Homo sapiens: one gene and its partners. The protein of the gene in region 1 purifies or fractionates together with the protein of each later gene. This does not show direct contact. Each region holds a gene or a part of one and is shown in the gene's direction. Other genes may lie near its edges.

The links.
Region 2: the proteins of KCNAB2 (region 1) and KCNA5 purify together in Homo sapiens (co-immunoprecipitation; 4 studies listed by BioGRID and IntAct, with this or other methods). This does not show direct contact.
Region 3: the proteins of KCNAB2 (region 1) and KCNA4 purify together in Homo sapiens (affinity purification with western blotting; 2 studies listed by BioGRID and IntAct, with this or other methods). This does not show direct contact.

The regions. Positions count from the first base shown.
Region 1 is NC_000001.11:6,090,866-6,097,981, forward strand, and holds part of KCNAB2 (voltage-gated potassium channel subunit beta-2), read left to right. Parts: intron 1-397; coding exon 398-442; coding exon of another isoform or gene 443-471; exon of another isoform or gene 472-3,515; intron 3,516-3,534; coding exon 3,535-3,620; intron 3,621-4,457; coding exon 4,458-4,578; intron 4,579-4,664; coding exon 4,665-4,759; intron 4,760-5,770; coding exon 5,771-5,891; intron 5,892-6,403; coding exon 6,404-6,492; coding exon of another isoform or gene 6,493-6,666; exon of another isoform or gene 6,667-6,690; intron 6,691-7,116.
Region 2 is NC_000012.12:5,039,938-5,046,956, forward strand, and holds KCNA5 (potassium voltage-gated channel subfamily A member 5), read left to right. Parts: upstream 1-3,941; 5' UTR 3,942-4,210; coding exon 4,211-6,052; 3' UTR 6,053-6,851; downstream 6,852-7,019. UniProt on the Homo sapiens protein: Voltage-gated potassium channel that mediates transmembrane potassium transport in excitable membranes. Forms tetrameric potassium-selective channels through which potassium ions pass in accordance with their electrochemical gradient.
Region 3 is NC_000011.10:30,009,204-30,014,120, reverse strand, and holds the end of KCNA4 (potassium voltage-gated channel subfamily A member 4), read left to right. Parts: intron 1-660; 5' UTR 661-1,442; coding exon 1,443-3,404; 3' UTR 3,405-4,391; downstream 4,392-4,917. UniProt on the Homo sapiens protein: Voltage-gated potassium channel that mediates transmembrane potassium transport in excitable membranes. Forms tetrameric potassium-selective channels through which potassium ions pass in accordance with their electrochemical gradient.

The DNA.
Region 1 (7,116 bases):
TTGGGGGGACTTTTTTGCTCTGGGGGATAAATTACTACATAGAGGAGAAGAAGCGTTCAGCGCTTTGAAAATCGGTTTTGGTTACTTTGGCGTTTTTTATTCTTTCTACTCCTGCGATCTCAGCCCCCTCCGCTCCCCCATCCTCCTGCTACAGGCGTCTTTCCATGTGTGCTTTGCTGCTGCAGGGACTTGAAAGTTAAATTGTGTTCCAGTTATTGTTTTTTATTTGTTCATATACAGCACGCACGTGCGTGTGTTGATATATTTTTTTCCTTTTTAACTAAACGCGTGTTCTGCACGGTGATTTGTGCCTCCCCGCTGTGCCTTCGTCGTGCCACGCCTCTCAGTGCTCCCAGCTATCAACTCTGGTCTCTTTAAATCTTTCTTCTATCACCAGGGGACCCATTTAGTTCCTCCAAGTCAAGGACATTCATCATAGAAGGTACACAGTGCCCCCAGCCTGACTATTGACTTCTGTGTCCAAGCTGCATTTTATGAGACAGTATTTTTATTTACATGATTCTTTTACCCCATGAGAAACTTCTCCATAAAATGCATAAAGAGGGGAAAGAGCACCCTATGAGAACACCTTGCAAGTGAAGGAAAAGCAAAGTGGTGTTGGAGCCCCTCGCCCCCAGCCCCCCATCCCCTCGTTCCTCCTTCCTCCCGTGCATGGCCCCCACCCCTGGGCTTGCACTGCTGAGCTCCGCGGCGGCCGGGGGTCCTCTTGATCTGAGGATGCTGTGATCCCCACCTGGAGCCTTGACCCTGGATGGTGCCATGGGAAGGGTTGGGGAAGACCAGGTTTCCACAAGGAGCAAAGCCATCAGGGACCCCAAAACACGCGGCCCCCCACCGAGTCTTAGCTCCTCCATGGTTTATGTTTGCTAAGCTCCTGTCTCTCCTGGAGGCAGAGATCACCTGGCTTGTCACGCTGCCCCGTCCACAGCACGCTGCTCCTCGGACGGCATGCTGGCTGCGTGTCCCCTCTCACCAGGTTGCCAAAGCGCTCCATCAACGTGGAATCATTTTCCTCCTGAAAGAATAACCACAGGAGCCGGCAGCCTTCTGAAACCAGGGGGTGGCCTCTGGCCACGCACAGTCTCTCTGCCCTCCCCACAGCTAACGGCCCCAGGACCCCACCCCAAGGGCAGGTGTCGATCTCCCTGGGCCTGGGCCCCTGTCTGCCAACTGGTGCTGCCACCTGAACCCCCATGTATTATTTGTGATGCGGCAGGAGATGCTGTGAGTTTTGGCAGCAGCTAGAAGGATTCAGTCTTCCTACTTCCGTTCAACCCCATTAAATATTGAGGTGAAGGACAGTTGTCCCTAATTGTCCCTGGGTCTGGGGCCACTGATATCACACTTGGGCACAAGTGCAGGGTGCTCCCTCATGTGGGCTCCCTGTCCAGCCTGCTTCTGCCCAGATCCTCCAGGGAGCCCAGGGGCCTTTGCCTAGGACTCCCCACCTCAGGACAGCCAGAGGCTCCTGCCCCGTCAGCCCCGTCTCTCCATCACTGCATGGAAGGGGCGCCGCAGGGCAGCATGCGGTTTCACTGGCTGGGACCTTGGAGACCTGAGACAGCTGCCGGGGAGGGAGAGTGAGGGAACGGGGCTGGCCTTGGGGGCCTTGGCTTCCCTCTGTCTGGCATGTGGACCTAAGCCTTGGCTGAGAAGAATCGGGAACTGATGCTGCATGCTCACAGGTGCCCCGAGAGTGTTTCTAAAAAACCACAAGGCCGGGCAGGCCAGGAGCCCGGACCTGGGCAGGATGTAGTCAGAGATTCTCCTGGGACCCTCTAGGTTCTCCTCAAACTTTCCCAACCAGGCACTTCCTGAGGGTCTATCGGAGTTGGCAGTTAAAGCAGGTGGCCCAGGGAGGTGGCCCAGAGAGTTCAGACTCCCTCCCAGATCTCCACCCCCAGGAGGGGACAGAGAGGATTCCCAGGAGCTACAACCTCTGACCTTGGAAGTAAGCAGAGAGCAGGGCTGGGCCTGCAAGCGTGGAAGCCAAGGGTGGTTTGCCAGGGGTCCTGGGTGAGTCTGCCGAGACCACCACTCCAGAAACCCCAGTGGCCTCAGCTCTAGCCTTTAGGAGGCCCCAGGTTCTGCTCAGGGTGGACCTCAGTAAAGGGGCACTCAGGGAGCGACCCCCAAAACAGAAGTGGACGGGAAGCCAGCACTGCCACTTTGTGGCCTCGTTGCCATTCCAGGGGGGAGCCTGCAGAACAAACCCAGCATCTTCCATCCTTCCTTCCTTCCCATCAGCCCCACTCCCAGCATTTTCAGGACCTCAGCTTCCACGCAGCATGGGCAAAGGACAAGCAGGCACTGAGGGAGAGCCAGGGCTTTTCCAGGGTCAACGTTGTTGCTGTCTTTAGAAACACTTGCACTCCCACTCACTCCCACACTGCCTTTGGCGGTCGAACTTGCAAGCACTGTATCCGACCCGTGAGAAGCCTAGCGCCATAGTCCCTCGCCCTGCAAAGCTCAGAGGCTTCTGAAATTTGAAATTTCGACGCCAAGTTCTGTTTTTAAAATCACAATATCCCCATGAGGCTGAGAGGGAGCTATAACCAGCAGATTGCTGTGTCTCAAAGCCATGTTTGAATATTGGGAAGAATCCACTGTGTCGCTGGGGCGAGGGTCCCTCCTCTCTTCTTTAAAAGGCCAGCGTGAAGTCTCCGCGATTTCATCCTCAGGGCCTTAGGAGTCTCCGCCGTCCACGATTCAGGTTGTTCCCAGGGCTCATGGAGCCTCAAAACTGTCCTACTCCAGGCCCTGGCCCCTCACAGGAGGAGCACCCAGACCCCTGTGGCCCTGGGACCACCCCTTGCCAGGGGACAGGCGGGTTGGGACTCTGGCCTGGTGCTGGGCTGGTTTGAGAACCTGGGCCATGGTCTTACAAGGCTTTCCACGCCCACTTCTCAGTCTCCTGGACATGACAGGAAACATGAGCTCAGCCCCGAAGCCCTATTCTCCGGGACCATATGGCGCCCCAGGTCCTGCCACATCTCCTTATCCAGCCCACTCTCTGTTCCAATTAGACTTTGGAATAGCCCGAAGTAGGAGACCAGAAACGCAAAAACACATGTCCCTCCTGCCGCCAATCTGACTGTAACGTTCATGCATTCACCTGGTCCTTCCTGAGTGATCGGGGCCCTCGAATCTTCCCCAGACCAGAGAACCTCCAGTTCTAGAGTCCAGAGCCACATTCTTTGATTGTCCCCTCTAATCTACCATAGAAACATCACGGTCCATCCATAACCCATTTTTCAACATTTCCATAGGCCTGTAACCAGTCGGGGAAATTGTTTTCACGACCAACTTCTAGGATTGTGGTTCACTTTTCTCTTTCATCCCAAAAAACCCCTCCCACACCCAACTTCAGAGCCAGGAAGTACACTGCTTGCAAGACATCTTCGCAGCCCCTGTCCCTCCTCCCAGCGTCCTGCCTGTATTTGCAGAATGTCCCGAGGCTGGCCCTGAGCCCTGGCTGCCCCCCACCTGCGGTTTCCCTTTCTCTCACGACAGAGACCGTCCGCGCCATGACCCACGTCATCAACCAGGGGATGGCCATGTACTGGGGCACGTCACGCTGGAGCTCCATGGAGATCATGGTACGGTGGCCGCGCAGCATGTGTGTGTCCAGGCACAGACTCCCGGCACCGGCTGCGTATGGAGACCCCAAAGCTCTGGCGGGGTCTGTGCCTTTGGTCCCAACTGCACCGATGCCTGGGTGCTAAGGGAGGGACAGGATGGTGGAGTGTGGTGGTTATGTCTGTAGGCCTTGCAGACGGGGATTCTGCATGGATCCCAGCGCTGTGTGGCCCTGGACAAATGGCTTAACGTCTCTGAGCTTGTTTCCCCACCTGTAGAACACATCTGCTAGGTGAGCCCCCATGGGGCCATTCTAAGGAGTCCCTGAGAGAGCCAGTGTGAAGCTCTTAGCAGATGCCCTGGAGCTCAGCAAGCACTCTGGGGTGACAACACCGTCAGCTGTTTCCACTGGGCTCCTGAGACGTGCCCGGTGCTGTTAGGGTCAAGGGTTCCACAGGGACCCTCTCACATGCAATCCTCACCGGTGCCTTTACCAGGTGAGTGCCGCAGGCAGCCCATTTTTCAGATGTGGACACTGTGGCACAGAGAGGTTCAGTAACATGCCAAGGTCACACAGCTTGGGCCAAGATTAACATCCAGGCTGTGTGGTTCAGAGCCTGGGCTGCTCATAACTGGACCCTCCGGCCTGGGGGTCCCACCACCCACCTCCTTTTCCCAGCTCACCAGGGCCTGCCTGGCTCCCAGGGAAGCTATGAGTGTGAGCAGTGGGGAGCCCGGGCTGCAGCTGCTGGGCCAGCCTGCTCCGGGGACACCTTGGTGCCCTCTCCATGGCTGCCCCGGCAGCCTCCCGCCTGCTCACAGGCAAGGGCCCTCGGGGTCCCTTTCTGCCTTCACAGGAGGCCTACTCCGTGGCCCGGCAGTTCAACCTGACCCCGCCCATCTGCGAGCAGGCTGAGTACCACATGTTCCAGCGTGAGAAAGTGGAGGTGCAGCTGCCGGAGCTGTTCCACAAGATAGGTGGGCACCCTCGGGCCCCTCGCCCCGCCCCACCCCACCCCTGCTCTCGGGCCCAGGGCTTGACTCCACCTGCTTTTCCTCTTCAGGAGTGGGCGCCATGACCTGGTCCCCTCTGGCCTGTGGCATTGTTTCTGGCAAGTACGACAGTGGCATCCCACCCTACTCAAGAGCCTCCTTGAAGGTGAAGGAACAGCCTGGTGGGGAGGGACGGGCAGGGGATAGGCATTTTGGACGGGTGGGACCTTTGGGCCGACTGCTTTGGTGCTGGGCAGGGGTTCCGGGAGCTGCAGCTGTTCCCACCTCGGTCTGCTGGGGGCGGGCTCCTTGGCGTGAGAACATGGAGCCCCTCCTGGCCTGATCCCATGTGTAGAGGGGCTGCCCAGCCTGTGGCACAGGCCCAAGTGGAGAGGCCCTTTCACATCCCCCCCCCTGCCCCCACCACATCCCCCCATCTCTACCCCCTACCACATCCCCCACCTCTGCCCCCCACCACAGCCCAGCATTCAGAACTCTGAGACCCCTGGGCCTGGGCTCCGAGATGGGGGCTGCAAAGCCACATGGAGGTGACCCTGGGAGAGGCGCCCCTCCCCACCACACAACCTCTGAGTGGGGACTCAGGAGGGTCCCCAGACTGCAGGATCTGGAGAACAAGGAGCAGGCCAAGAAAGTCTGCCCAGCCAGCAGTCTCAGCACTGGGGCCCACAGCCCTGGGTTCCAGGGCAACGTGGCCTGGCCCCCGACTCCTCCCATCCCATGGCAAGGTCAGGGCCCCCCTCCAGGAGGCCCTGCAATCCTCTGGGGGGGATGGCCAGGGGAGAGAGCACTCCCCTAGGGCCAGGAGGTTCTTCTGGGCCACGGGTGGCAGCCGAGACCCCAGGCTGCCAAGTTTCCTAAGAGAAGGAAGGCCAGCACCTCGCCTCCTTGTCCTGACTTGGGGTTGGGCCAGCACCACAGTCTTTGCACTTCAGAGCCTGGACAGGCCCCGCTCATCCACCAGCCCGTGCCCGGCCCACTGCCCACTCTCCCCTACTTGAGAGGCCTGGGGCAGGGGCACTGCCCTGGCTTCAAGATGAGAAGAGCCCCTATGAGGGAGAAGGGTCCAGAAGGAATGAGCCCATCGGCCCCCTGCACGTGGGGGTCCAGGTGACCTGCTCTCATCTGTAGCTGTGCTGCTCCCCTCCCCCGCAACCAGGGCTACCAGTGGCTGAAGGACAAGATCCTCAGTGAGGAGGGCCGGCGCCAGCAAGCCAAGCTGAAGGAGCTGCAGGCCATCGCCGAGCGCCTGGGCTGCACCCTGCCCCAGCTGGCCATAGGTAACGGTGGGGTCGCCATGGGGCCAGTGCCCCTGGGGAGAACCTGCCCCAGCTGGCCGTAGGTAACAGGGTGGGGTTGCCATGGGGCCAGTGTCTCCGGGGAGAGAGGGAAGGGATCCCTGGACATCATCCCCCAGCCAGCCTCGGGTAATCGGGCTCTAAGGGGCATGGTTGGGACCCCATGCCTCTAGGGGGATGTCAGGAGTCCCTGAGGACCTGGGCCACCCCCTCCATCTGCCAGCCATAGGTAATGGGGCTCCCGCTTTCATGGGAAGAGGATGGGGAGCGCTAAGCACTTGGGCCACCTCTCCATCAGGGAGCAGCGGGCTCCCCCATGCCTCCTCCAGCCACCTCTTAGACAAAGCCCGTGCCCAGCACTGCAGGGCTTCCTAGACCCCCTCAGACCCCCAGACCAAGATGCTGGGTCTCTCGGCCCAGTCAGAGGCAAGGCAGACCCATCAGGGGCCCCTGTGGTGGGTGTTTCTCCCTCACCTTGGGTCTCGCCGCCACAGCCTGGTGCCTGAGGAATGAGGGAGTCAGCTCCGTGCTCCTGGGGGCCTCCAATGCGGACCAGCTCATGGAGAACATTGGGGCAATACAGGTAAGAGTGAGAGGCCCTGCTGGGCAGAGGGCCCATCCCAGCCCGAGCCCCGTCCAGTGCATCCTCCCAGGCTCGTCCTGCGTGCCAGGCTCTGTTCTAGGCACTCAGGATGCGCCCGTGAACCATCAGAGTTGTGCTCCTGGAGAGCTTGCTTTCCAGCAGGAACAGACATGAACACTAACTGCACGAAACAAGGAGGTTAGAATGTGTGTCAGGGTGGACGAGCGCTGTAGGAGAGAAGCCAGAGATAAAGGGAGGGAGCTGGGGCCAGGGACGGTGGCGCTGCAGACTCAGGTTCAAGGGGGCCTGTCAGGTGGGCTTGTTGAGAAGGTGGTGCTTGAGCAGTCTTGAGAGATGCGGAGTAAGTCACGCAAATGCCTGCGGGAAGAACCTTCCACCAGCAGGAAGAGTTGATGCAAAGGCCCAAAAAGGCCTGGAGCAGAGGGGCAGATCCTGAGAGGCACGAAACACCTCCAGGGACTTCTGAGTGAGACGGGAGCCGTGGCAAAATTGTGGGCAGAGGAGGGCGAGCTGCAGCTCAGCCTGGAAAGGGAGGCTGCTCTCCGGCTGCTCCATCGGGGAGGCTTTGGGAAGCAAAAGTCGAAGCAGAGAGCCCTGGTGGGA
Region 2 (7,019 bases), on another chromosome or scaffold:
GAATAACTGGTTTACCAGAGGAATAAAAAAGAAGCTGGAAAAGCAGCTCCGAGCGCACTTCTCTTACTCAAGCTCTCTGGACCATGCCTGGGTTTCCTGGTGGAGCCCTGCCAGAGCTGGCTAGGGATGCTTTAGAGATGTGGTCTTTTCAGCAGCAACCTCTCTTCCTCTTGAAAGAAAGGAGCAGAGGGATCCTGAGCCCCGAGACTTGGACAGACAGACTGGCTAGTATTTTTACCTGGCTGGCAGGGTGTGTCAGACAAGGCCACTGCTAGGATCCTGTCCTCACATTGGGCTTCCTGCATCTATGAACTCCCTGCACCACAGAGGAGTAAAATCAATGTCTGACAGAAAGACTAGTGGCATATTTTCTGCCTCCCTCTGTCCCTTTAAATGCTGTCCAATGGGGAAAGTTTTTCCCTGACCTAGTTGAAAATCCAGCAGGTCTCCTTGTTTTGTGTTACTCATATAATAAACAGAGCTATAGTCACCTCAGGTCTCAAACACAAGAAATTAAGCCATACAGTCCAAAATATGAAATTGTTGCTTTTTGCCCACAAAGTTGAAGTGGTCTGTGATAATGCAGTGGTATATAACCCGAACAAATGGTTATAAGTCTTCAGATGGTTAGGTCCCATCTCTACAACCACTTTGCGTACTTAGCTAATCTCAGAAACCACCTTTCAGTTCCTATTCCCAGGTTTCCCCTCCCTCGCTGCTCCAACAGCTGAATTTCCTTCCCCTAGTTCAATTGCGTTCAGTACATATTTAGTGAAATGCATAATATGGACGTGGCACCATGTTTGGTGTTGTGAAGAAAATCAAAGATCAATAAAAAATGTTCCTTGAGTTCAAAATATCTCTCTCTCTCTGTTAGCTCTCTCCCTCTCTCTCATCTACCTACCTATCATTTATAAATAGATAAATAGGTAACTAGAGAGTAGCTAGCTAGAAAGGTAGGTAGGTAAATAGATAGATAGATTGATGGATAGACAGATATAGTGTGGTAGATACCATTTGCAGATGCGATAGCTAGATAGCTAGATACATACATGCATACATACACAGAGATAAAAATCTATTCTTATGGGAATGTGATCTCTAGACAGGTGCATCAGTATCACCTGGGCGCTGTGTGAAATGCACTCTAAGCCCTACCCTGGTTCAGAGTCTGCATGTTAACAAGATCCTCAGGCAATGGTGCACATTAAGCACTGCTATAAAAGAGTTAACCTCGTAGGATTAGATAGTAAAGAAGGCAGCTTTCAGTTATACAATGTGTGCTCTGGGAAGAAGACAGAGATCGAGGTAGGAGTGTAAGAGGTTTACTGGGAGATAATAAAGAAAGTTAAAAGTGATAGGAAGAAGAATTCATTAGGGAAAGCATTCAGATTATGATGCTGATCTGGCACTTGTGAAAGGAAGGAGGGGAGGAAGAGGGGTTGGACAGAGTCTCAGAGTGGAATGTAGATCTTTCAAAGTCTTGGCCAATCTGCTGGGGAAATGCAGAGCAAAGATTGCCATTAGTGGAAATCTGCACTGAGTAGAAATGGCCAGGTCTTTGTAACCCTGCTGTGCTCAGAGGGCTACCCCAAAGGAGTGTGGCCCCTGCACTAAAGCTGAGGCAGTGCCAACAGCTGGAGCCTGTCAGCTAACTGCACTCTGGCAGTTGAAAAGCAAATTCTTTCTTTAAGGGAGATTTGAGCAGTATACCTCCATGGCTACCACATGTGACATCTGAAGGTAATTTTGCCAGAAACCTATAAGAACTGGCAAATGCATGGGAAACAGATTTAAGGAAATACCACATTAAAGGAGGCCTGGGTTTTGTGCTTTTCCTGGACTGTTTATGTTGTACTCTTATTCTTCAGGGAACAATCTCCCAGAAAGCCCCTGAAAGACAAGCTCCAGAGAATTCTTTCCTCTGGGGAGCCCGAGGAGAACCCAGGTGAACCAATGTAGCATCCTTATATTTACAAGATGCATGAATCAGTAGACAAGACTGTCATGGGTCTCTGACCTCACTGTCTGCAAGCTCAGTAAGTCCCAGGCTCCCCAGGAAAAATACCTGATCCTGACTGGCAACCTCAGAGCCAGAGAAGAATGAAAGCCCACTGGAGATGAAGCAGGGATGGCACAGATATGGGGAAAGGGGATGCAAGGCCCTGTGGTTAACCAGTGATGCCTTCACATACTGATTTTCATGTTCATACCCTTCCTCACTCATGCACGTCTGCAAAGACAGCCAACAATATGCACAGTCACACAGAATGAAAATACTTACGCACACCAAATTCACATCCACCTTCACATATAAACTCTTAAAAAGCCATATGCACACATACTTCTCAAACCTTGACCCAAGTTTGTGTGTCTATGCGCTGCTATTGCAACACACACTTGTGCACCCAGGACCAAGTTTCCAAATCACACCCTTTGGATAGAGACATTCATTGACAAGAGGTCCTAACTTCACGCATATAAATCTGAAGCAATATGCAGAAACAAAAATAGACAATGAAAACAGACATTCAAAAACACAGCCACTTTATGATAATTTAAAACCAAGAAACTTCTGGAGACTGTGTCTGGCAGTTCCAGACACACACCTTGAAACAGATTCCTCTTGGTTACCAATGCCTGCTAAAACCCTGCAGGGGTTGAGACAGGGCAGGGGAAGATTTCCTAGTGTCCCAACCTAGAAAGATTAATATGTTATATCAGCCATCATCCTGCCTTCTGCAGCAGGGAACTAAAGTTCTCAGGCCAGATGTTGGAGTGAGGGAGTGCTTGTATCAGGAAAAGGGATTATGCATTTCTATAGAGGAGTGAAATATAGGGGACAAGGGCCAAACTCTGATTGTTTGAGTTTGAGTTCCAGCATCATCAGTTTCCACCTGCATAAGCCTGGGTGAGTCTGTCAATCTCTCTGTGCCTCAGTTTCTTCATTTATAAAATGGTGATGATAATAGTACTTACAAAATAGGTTGCTGTAGGAATACACAGAGACAATATTTGTAAAGTGCTGAGAGTGGGCTGGTGCATAATGAGAGCCAAGTAAGTATTGGTTGTTATTATTCCATTCTTGGGAATGCTCCAGCCTTGGAGATTGGACAACCTCCCTGGCTCCCTCTCATAAGCCACCTCCACCCTCAGTCTCCTTCATGGACCTAGATGCAGTTGCTCGGTCCAAGATTCACCAGGCAGGATTAGCCCTCACCAGGATTGTAAAAATCGCTTCTCCCCTTCCCTGCTGTGGTTTTTGCAAATGGGATTCGTTGGAGCGGGTGGAGGGGTTCTGCTGGGTTGAGACCAGACAGCTCATCTCCTGACTAGGCTGCTTGCCTGGGCTGCCACCAGGTCTGTACTGGAAACAGGCTAGGGCATGGGAATCCTGCAGGGTTCCAACCCCCTTGTACATTTTTGTGGATCTGTAGGAAGACGGGAAGAGAGATGCTTCTCCATTGATACATGTATTTCAAGGTCCGTAACTACGTGGCCCCCCTCCCTTCTGTAATCCTTCCCAAAGAAATACCGTTATTTCTCCAAAATAAAAAGGACTGGTGTCTCCCGTCTCTGTCTCTCATACTCCGACTCAGCTCAAAGCCTCGTCCCTTTAGCCCAAGGCACTTCGTTCCTCCTGGAGTCCACTCGGCTTCCAGCGGGTTCCCAGGTGAACTGAAATCCAGAGCTATTCTCATCTGGTTGCCCTGGGAATTTCAGCGCTGTCGGTACAACCTGTTCCTCCATCCTCCCCACTCCTTCCCTCCCTCCGCTGGGCTGCACCCTTCTCAGCCCCTCCTTTCCCTTGCTAGGGGCCCCAGCTGCGCCCTCCGGGGAGACACCCGCTGCCACGAGACCCGGGAGGGGAAGCGGGAGGAGGGGGAGAGGAGGGGAAGGCGGGGGAGGCGCCGAGGGTGGAGGCCAAGCGCGGCGCAGCCAGAGAGGGGCGGCTGAAGGTTGCATCTGCTGGAAGGAGGCTTTTCGGCTGCTTGGTAACGGGCTGCCAGAAGAGAGAGAGGCAGAGAGCAGGGCAGCGGCTTCTTGACGTCAGGGCCAAGCGAGGGGATCGCGCCAGCAACCCCAGCTCTCCCCAGAGAGGGGCCGGCCGACCGCTGGAGCGGAGCCTGACGCCAGGCGCCCGCGGAGCGTGAGTAGGGGGCGCGGGAGCCGGTCAGCTGGGGCGCAGCATGCCCTCTGCTCCCGCGCCATGGAGATCGCCCTGGTGCCCCTGGAGAACGGCGGTGCCATGACCGTCAGAGGAGGCGATGAGGCCCGGGCAGGCTGCGGCCAGGCCACAGGGGGAGAGCTCCAGTGTCCCCCGACGGCTGGGCTCAGCGATGGGCCCAAGGAGCCGGCGCCAAAGGGGCGCGGCGCGCAGAGAGACGCGGACTCGGGAGTGCGGCCCTTGCCTCCGCTGCCGGACCCGGGAGTGCGGCCCTTGCCTCCGCTGCCAGAGGAGCTGCCACGGCCTCGACGGCCGCCTCCCGAGGACGAGGAGGAAGAAGGCGATCCCGGCCTGGGCACGGTGGAGGACCAGGCTCTGGGCACGGCGTCCCTGCACCACCAGCGCGTCCACATCAACATCTCCGGGCTGCGCTTTGAGACGCAGCTGGGCACCCTGGCGCAGTTCCCCAACACACTCCTGGGGGACCCCGCCAAGCGCCTGCGCTACTTCGACCCCCTGAGGAACGAGTACTTCTTCGACCGCAACCGGCCCAGCTTCGACGGTATCCTCTACTACTACCAGTCCGGGGGCCGCCTGCGGAGGCCGGTCAACGTCTCCCTGGACGTGTTCGCGGACGAGATACGCTTCTACCAGCTGGGGGACGAGGCCATGGAGCGCTTCCGCGAGGATGAGGGCTTCATTAAAGAAGAGGAGAAGCCCCTGCCCCGCAACGAGTTCCAGCGCCAGGTGTGGCTTATCTTCGAGTATCCGGAGAGCTCTGGGTCCGCGCGGGCCATCGCCATCGTCTCGGTCTTGGTTATCCTCATCTCCATCATCACCTTCTGCTTGGAGACCCTGCCTGAGTTCAGGGATGAACGTGAGCTGCTCCGCCACCCTCCGGCGCCCCACCAGCCTCCCGCGCCCGCCCCTGGGGCCAACGGCAGCGGGGTCATGGCCCCGCCCTCTGGCCCTACGGTGGCACCGCTCCTGCCCAGGACCCTGGCCGACCCCTTCTTCATCGTGGAGACCACGTGCGTCATCTGGTTCACCTTCGAGCTGCTCGTGCGCTTCTTCGCCTGCCCCAGCAAGGCAGGGTTCTCCCGGAACATCATGAACATCATCGATGTGGTGGCCATCTTCCCCTACTTCATCACCCTGGGCACCGAACTGGCAGAGCAGCAGCCAGGGGGTGGAGGAGGCGGCCAGAATGGGCAGCAGGCCATGTCCCTGGCCATCCTCCGAGTCATCCGCCTGGTCCGGGTGTTCCGCATCTTCAAGCTCTCCCGCCACTCCAAGGGGCTGCAGATCCTGGGCAAGACCTTGCAGGCCTCCATGAGGGAGCTGGGGCTGCTCATCTTCTTCCTCTTCATCGGGGTCATCCTCTTCTCCAGTGCCGTCTACTTCGCAGAGGCTGACAACCAGGGAACCCATTTCTCTAGCATCCCTGACGCCTTCTGGTGGGCAGTGGTCACCATGACCACTGTGGGCTACGGGGACATGAGGCCCATCACTGTTGGGGGCAAGATCGTGGGCTCGCTGTGTGCCATCGCCGGGGTCCTCACCATTGCCCTGCCTGTGCCCGTCATCGTCTCCAACTTCAACTACTTCTACCACCGGGAAACGGATCACGAGGAGCCGGCAGTCCTTAAGGAAGAGCAGGGCACTCAGAGCCAGGGGCCGGGGCTGGACAGAGGAGTCCAGCGGAAGGTCAGCGGGAGCAGGGGATCCTTCTGCAAGGCTGGGGGGACCCTGGAGAATGCAGACAGTGCCCGAAGGGGCAGCTGCCCCCTAGAGAAGTGTAACGTCAAGGCCAAGAGCAACGTGGACTTGCGGAGGTCCCTTTATGCCCTCTGCCTGGACACCAGCCGGGAAACAGATTTGTGAAAGGAGATTCAGGCAGACTGGTGGCAGTGGAGTAGGGAATGGGAGGCTTGCTGAACATGGATATCTACATTATACCGCAGAGTATTTGAAGTCACACTGTAACCTCAGTCTACCCCTCTCCTTTCACTCCTTTCCTCCCTCCCTCGATCCCCCCATTTTCTCTATTCTTTCCATGACACCCAAGGGTCGCCTATTTTTAAAAAGTACCACATTCCATGACGCAGGAGCTGTGGAAATGGTGAGCGCTGTGAGATGGATGTATTTGTAGCCAGTCTCCTATACCCAGCAGAGGGATAACCCAAACAAAAATGACTCTAAATAGCCCAGATCCCAAGAGATTATGTAACTCCTCCATCCATGTGTTCCAAATTTGCTTTACATATGATTGTATTTGTGTATAGGGGAAAATATTATTTTTATGCCTGGTAAGTGGCTTTTTGTACTGTAGTTCAGATAGAGATATTTTGGGTATATTTTCAAGATACATGTTGTATTTATGGAAGAAAGAGTTGTCCTGATGTTTTTCTGTGTTACTTATATTAGAGTCAGAGATCTTGGTATGGGCTGTTCTGTTTCCTGTGTCTCCAAGCCTCTGTCTTTTCTGGGATGTGGTATTGGTGCTTTGTGTCTAGGGCAGAGTATGTTCTTGAAGAAAGGCAAATCTGACTTTTTCTGTGCGCCTTAAACAATTCTTGTAACTTTCTTCAAAAAGCATTTTAATGATATTGGAGGAATACTTCTGATAATTTATTGTCTTTATTTTTATCCCAGGAAATAAAAGGTTACCTTGTTGAGGCAAGTGTTAGTTTTTCTGCAGCTGATACATTTTCTGAAATTTTTAAAAATAGTCTGTCACTGGCTGTTTCTGGTTTTGACATCAGAGCAAACGCATTGACTGGGGTTAGAGGAAATCTGAAAAGCTCATGATTTGCTTGGCGACGTCTTTTCAGTGCACCCCTTGGTGCCT
Region 3 (4,917 bases), on another chromosome or scaffold:
TATTGCCATTCATTAGGTAAAAGGCACTGAGATATTCTATCAACATCCATTATCTCATTTAATCCTTACAAACATGGGATGGGGGAGGTTGTGTTATTATTTGTACTTTATAGATGAGGTGACTGAAGTGCATTCAAGTGGTGCTGTCTGCACAAAGAATAAGAATATTATTATTTTTTTTTCTGACTTCCCCAGTGCTGAGTCAAGATAGAGAGGAGTAGAAGGGCACTTAATTCAGAAACACTTTATGAGTGGAAATTTTAAAAATTGCCTTGAAATAGATGAATGATGGAAGCAGCTGTAAAGTCACAGCATTATTTTTTGTGGAATGAAGAGAGTGACAGTGAGAATTAAGACCTAGCATTGGTGAAGGGGAAGATAGAAGCAAGAGCCATGTGGGCCATGAGTGGAGAGAGGAAAAATAATTGAGTTACCATAAAAATAAACTGAGCTGAAATAATAACTGAAGAAGGAAAGAATGATGTTTAGTGAGTGAGAATAGCCTGCCCCATACTCTTGAAAATATTGGTGCTTGGTGTGTTATATGACTTTCTTGAAGAAAAGAGAAGGATGTGTATGTGAAGAGAAATGCTCAGTTTGCTCTTTATGATTTGTTTCCTTTTTATTTTTCTCCTATGCTTCTTTCCAATCCTTTTTCAGGTGAAGTGCTTCTTCTGCATGATTTTGGCTGAAGAATGCTCTGCATTTCCTTGATTTCTATGGAGACCTCAGAGCTGGTTTTGCTTCTGCTGACACCTCATCTAGCACCTTCTCTACCTCCCAGGGTCTTTGCCTCTATCTGTGGTTTGGCATTGTACCTGGGTACAGGAAGCCTTTGATGAACTTAAAAGGAGAGCCTGGAGAATCATCCTGATAGACTTTGAGTAGAAATGGCTGGACATACTTCAAACCACATCTTAACATGGTTCGAGCCATCACTAGAAGGCAAGTGCTAACAGTAAAGGCTTATTTGCATTTTATTTACATTTAATGGACTGAGCATTGGCCAATTTCCATGGCAGAAAAATATATTTCATTTTCTAGGCACAACTTCTGGCTGTCAGACACTTGCTGCCTTTGAATCTTGCAGCAACATCACTAACCACATCCCAGACATATTTCCAAATTTCAACATCTACCCCCAAAACATAGGTGTCTGAGAGACTCCAGCATTTTCGGACTTCTTAGTCTTGAGAGTGCCAGGCTATTTATCTCGACCAGCCAAGCTCTGGAGAGCAATGTTGAATCCCTGAGAAGAGAGAGCATGGGGCGTGCTGATTTAAAAACAGAAAATGCAAAGTTGGACTGAAAATATCCTTAGTCTTCCAAGCAATCTGCTTAAGGGTTCCAAACTTACCTTAATTTGGTGAGAAAAGAAGCTGCCCTATTTTTCTTTCTTCTTCTTCTACAACTGGAACCAGCCATTTCCGAAAACCACCACCATGGAGGTTGCAATGGTGAGTGCGGAGAGCTCAGGGTGCAACAGTCACATGCCTTATGGTTATGCTGCCCAGGCCCGGGCCCGGGAGCGGGAGAGGCTTGCTCACTCCAGGGCAGCTGCAGCAGCTGCTGTTGCAGCGGCCACAGCTGCTGTCGAAGGTAGCGGGGGTTCTGGTGGGGGCTCCCACCACCACCACCAGTCACGCGGGGCCTGTACCTCCCATGACCCTCAGAGCAGCCGGGGTAGTCGGAGGAGGAGGCGACAGCGGTCTGAGAAGAAGAAAGCCCACTACCGGCAGAGCAGCTTCCCTCATTGCTCTGACCTGATGCCCAGTGGCTCTGAGGAGAAGATCCTGAGGGAGCTGAGTGAGGAGGAGGAAGATGAGGAGGAGGAGGAAGAGGAGGAAGAGGAGGGAAGGTTTTACTATAGTGAAGATGACCATGGTGATGAGTGTTCCTACACGGATCTGCTGCCTCAGGATGAGGGCGGTGGCGGCTACAGTTCAGTCCGCTACAGTGACTGTTGTGAACGTGTGGTGATAAATGTGTCAGGCCTACGCTTTGAGACCCAAATGAAAACTCTGGCCCAGTTTCCAGAGACTTTGTTGGGAGACCCTGAAAAGAGGACTCAGTACTTTGACCCTTTGCGCAATGAGTATTTTTTTGACAGGAACCGCCCCAGCTTTGATGCCATCTTGTATTATTATCAATCAGGAGGCCGCCTGAAGAGGCCAGTCAATGTCCCCTTTGATATCTTCACTGAGGAGGTGAAGTTCTATCAGTTGGGGGAGGAGGCCCTGTTGAAGTTTCGGGAGGACGAGGGCTTTGTGAGAGAAGAGGAAGACAGGGCCCTCCCCGAGAATGAATTTAAAAAGCAGATTTGGCTCCTCTTTGAATATCCAGAGAGCTCCAGTCCTGCAAGGGGCATAGCCATTGTGTCCGTCCTGGTCATCTTAATCTCCATTGTCATCTTTTGCCTGGAAACCTTGCCTGAGTTTAGGGACGACAGGGATCTCGTCATGGCACTGAGTGCTGGCGGGCATGGTGGGTTGTTGAATGATACTTCAGCACCCCATCTGGAGAACTCAGGGCACACAATATTCAATGACCCCTTCTTCATCGTGGAAACAGTCTGTATTGTATGGTTTTCCTTTGAGTTTGTGGTTCGCTGCTTTGCTTGTCCCAGCCAAGCACTCTTCTTCAAAAACATCATGAACATCATTGACATTGTCTCCATTTTGCCTTACTTCATCACACTGGGCACTGACCTGGCCCAGCAACAGGGGGGTGGCAATGGTCAGCAGCAGCAGGCCATGTCCTTTGCCATCCTCAGAATCATTCGTCTGGTCCGAGTATTCCGGATCTTCAAACTCTCCAGGCACTCCAAAGGCCTGCAGATCCTGGGCCACACCCTCAGAGCCAGCATGCGGGAACTGGGCCTTCTGATCTTCTTCCTCTTCATTGGGGTCATCCTCTTTTCTAGTGCTGTGTATTTTGCAGAGGCGGATGAACCTACTACCCATTTCCAAAGCATCCCAGATGCATTTTGGTGGGCTGTGGTGACCATGACAACTGTGGGCTATGGGGACATGAAGCCCATCACTGTAGGGGGCAAGATTGTCGGGTCCCTGTGTGCCATTGCGGGTGTCTTAACCATTGCTTTGCCAGTGCCAGTGATTGTCTCTAACTTTAACTATTTCTACCACAGAGAGACTGAAAATGAGGAACAGACACAGCTAACGCAGAATGCAGTCAGTTGTCCATACCTCCCCTCTAATTTGCTCAAGAAATTTCGGAGCTCTACTTCTTCTTCCCTGGGGGACAAGTCAGAGTATCTAGAGATGGAAGAAGGAGTTAAGGAATCTCTGTGTGCAAAGGAGGAGAAGTGTCAGGGAAAGGGGGATGACAGTGAGACAGATAAAAACAACTGTTCTAATGCAAAGGCTGTGGAGACTGATGTGTGAATCTTTTTCCACCTGCCACTGCTCCCCCCTCAGCATCTCCAAATATATTTATGCATAGAGAGTGCAGTTATGAAAATGAAATATGCAAATGATCCAATGCATACAGTAGTACACTATTTAATGGTTATACATGGCATAATTGTTACTAAACTTGTATTACATATCAAATAAATGATACATCTTGGAGAAGAGGGAGGAATAGGAGCAAATCTATCTTTATATTTTTATTAGAATGCAAGAATTTTGCACATTAACTGGAAAAGATGTTAACAGTAAAGATGGAGAGAGAGAGTGTGTGCGTGTGTGTGTATATGTGTGTGTGTGTGAAGTAAATTGTCAATGTTAGTAATTGTGCAGTGAAGGGAAAAGTTGGCATTTTGAAGTATTTACTATGTAAGAACTAATGAATCTGAGCAGTCATTTATCAGTGCTTTAACAGCATATCGTATGTCTTTGGATTCTGTAGTTGTTTTTTAAAAATTGTAAGAAATACTGTGTAGAGAAAAAAGAAAGTAAATTATTTAATAGACTATAGGTCACAATTTTATCTTGGATTTAATTAAAATTTATTTTTAACTGGAAATTAACTTTTAAAAAGGCTGCAAGGGCCTTTAGAAATTGATTATATTTTGTTATTAATTTTGGGAAGACTTAACAGCAAATGTCTAACATTATAGAATAAGTGAAATTGGAGAATATGTAATAAGTTTTGTTTGCAGGTAACAGGACTGGATTTTTTTTTCTTTGCACTACTTTATATGCTGGAGATTGAGAGAGACTTCAAACTGTGAATGTTTACTAATGTAACAGTTCAATGACAATCATTGGAAGAATGATTTCTTTAGTCTTATTTTATTGTTTTCTTTTCATTGTGTGAGACTAATGATCATGCAGATAACATCACAGGATTCTCTCCTCTTTTAAAATCTAAATAACTGATTGACAAAGGAATTATGAAGTAAAATTTAGCAACTGAATCTTTTGAAATTGGTCTGTTAGAATGATGCTTCTGAAATCATACTATTTTATATATTCTTCTGCCTTTTAACTCCAGAATAATTTAACCAAAGTTAATGCATGCACTGAAAGAATTCTTGAAGAAGATGCCAAGCAGCTACAGTGATTATGGCTTAAAATTTTTCTATTAAATGTGAAACATAAACGCTAGATTTATTAAGTTTATTTTTTTGTGCAGTTATATAAGAACAGAATTTGGGGATTAACCTCAGATTTTAACATTATATTTGCTAAAATGGACATAAGGAAGAATTGTGTCAAACATTTGGTTTCAACATCACCATCATTATTATCTTTATTAAAGGAATTTATGACACATATAACTGCATTTAAGTCATGACAAAGCATTCTAGAATGTGAGATAACAACTAGCGATCAGCCTTGCACTATGAAATCATGAGGTATAGGTTAGAAAACTCAGAATGCATAAGAGGCCTTATTCTACAATGTTTATTTAACTTCTGTTCTTTATAAAATGATTGTCTTGAGCTCTGGT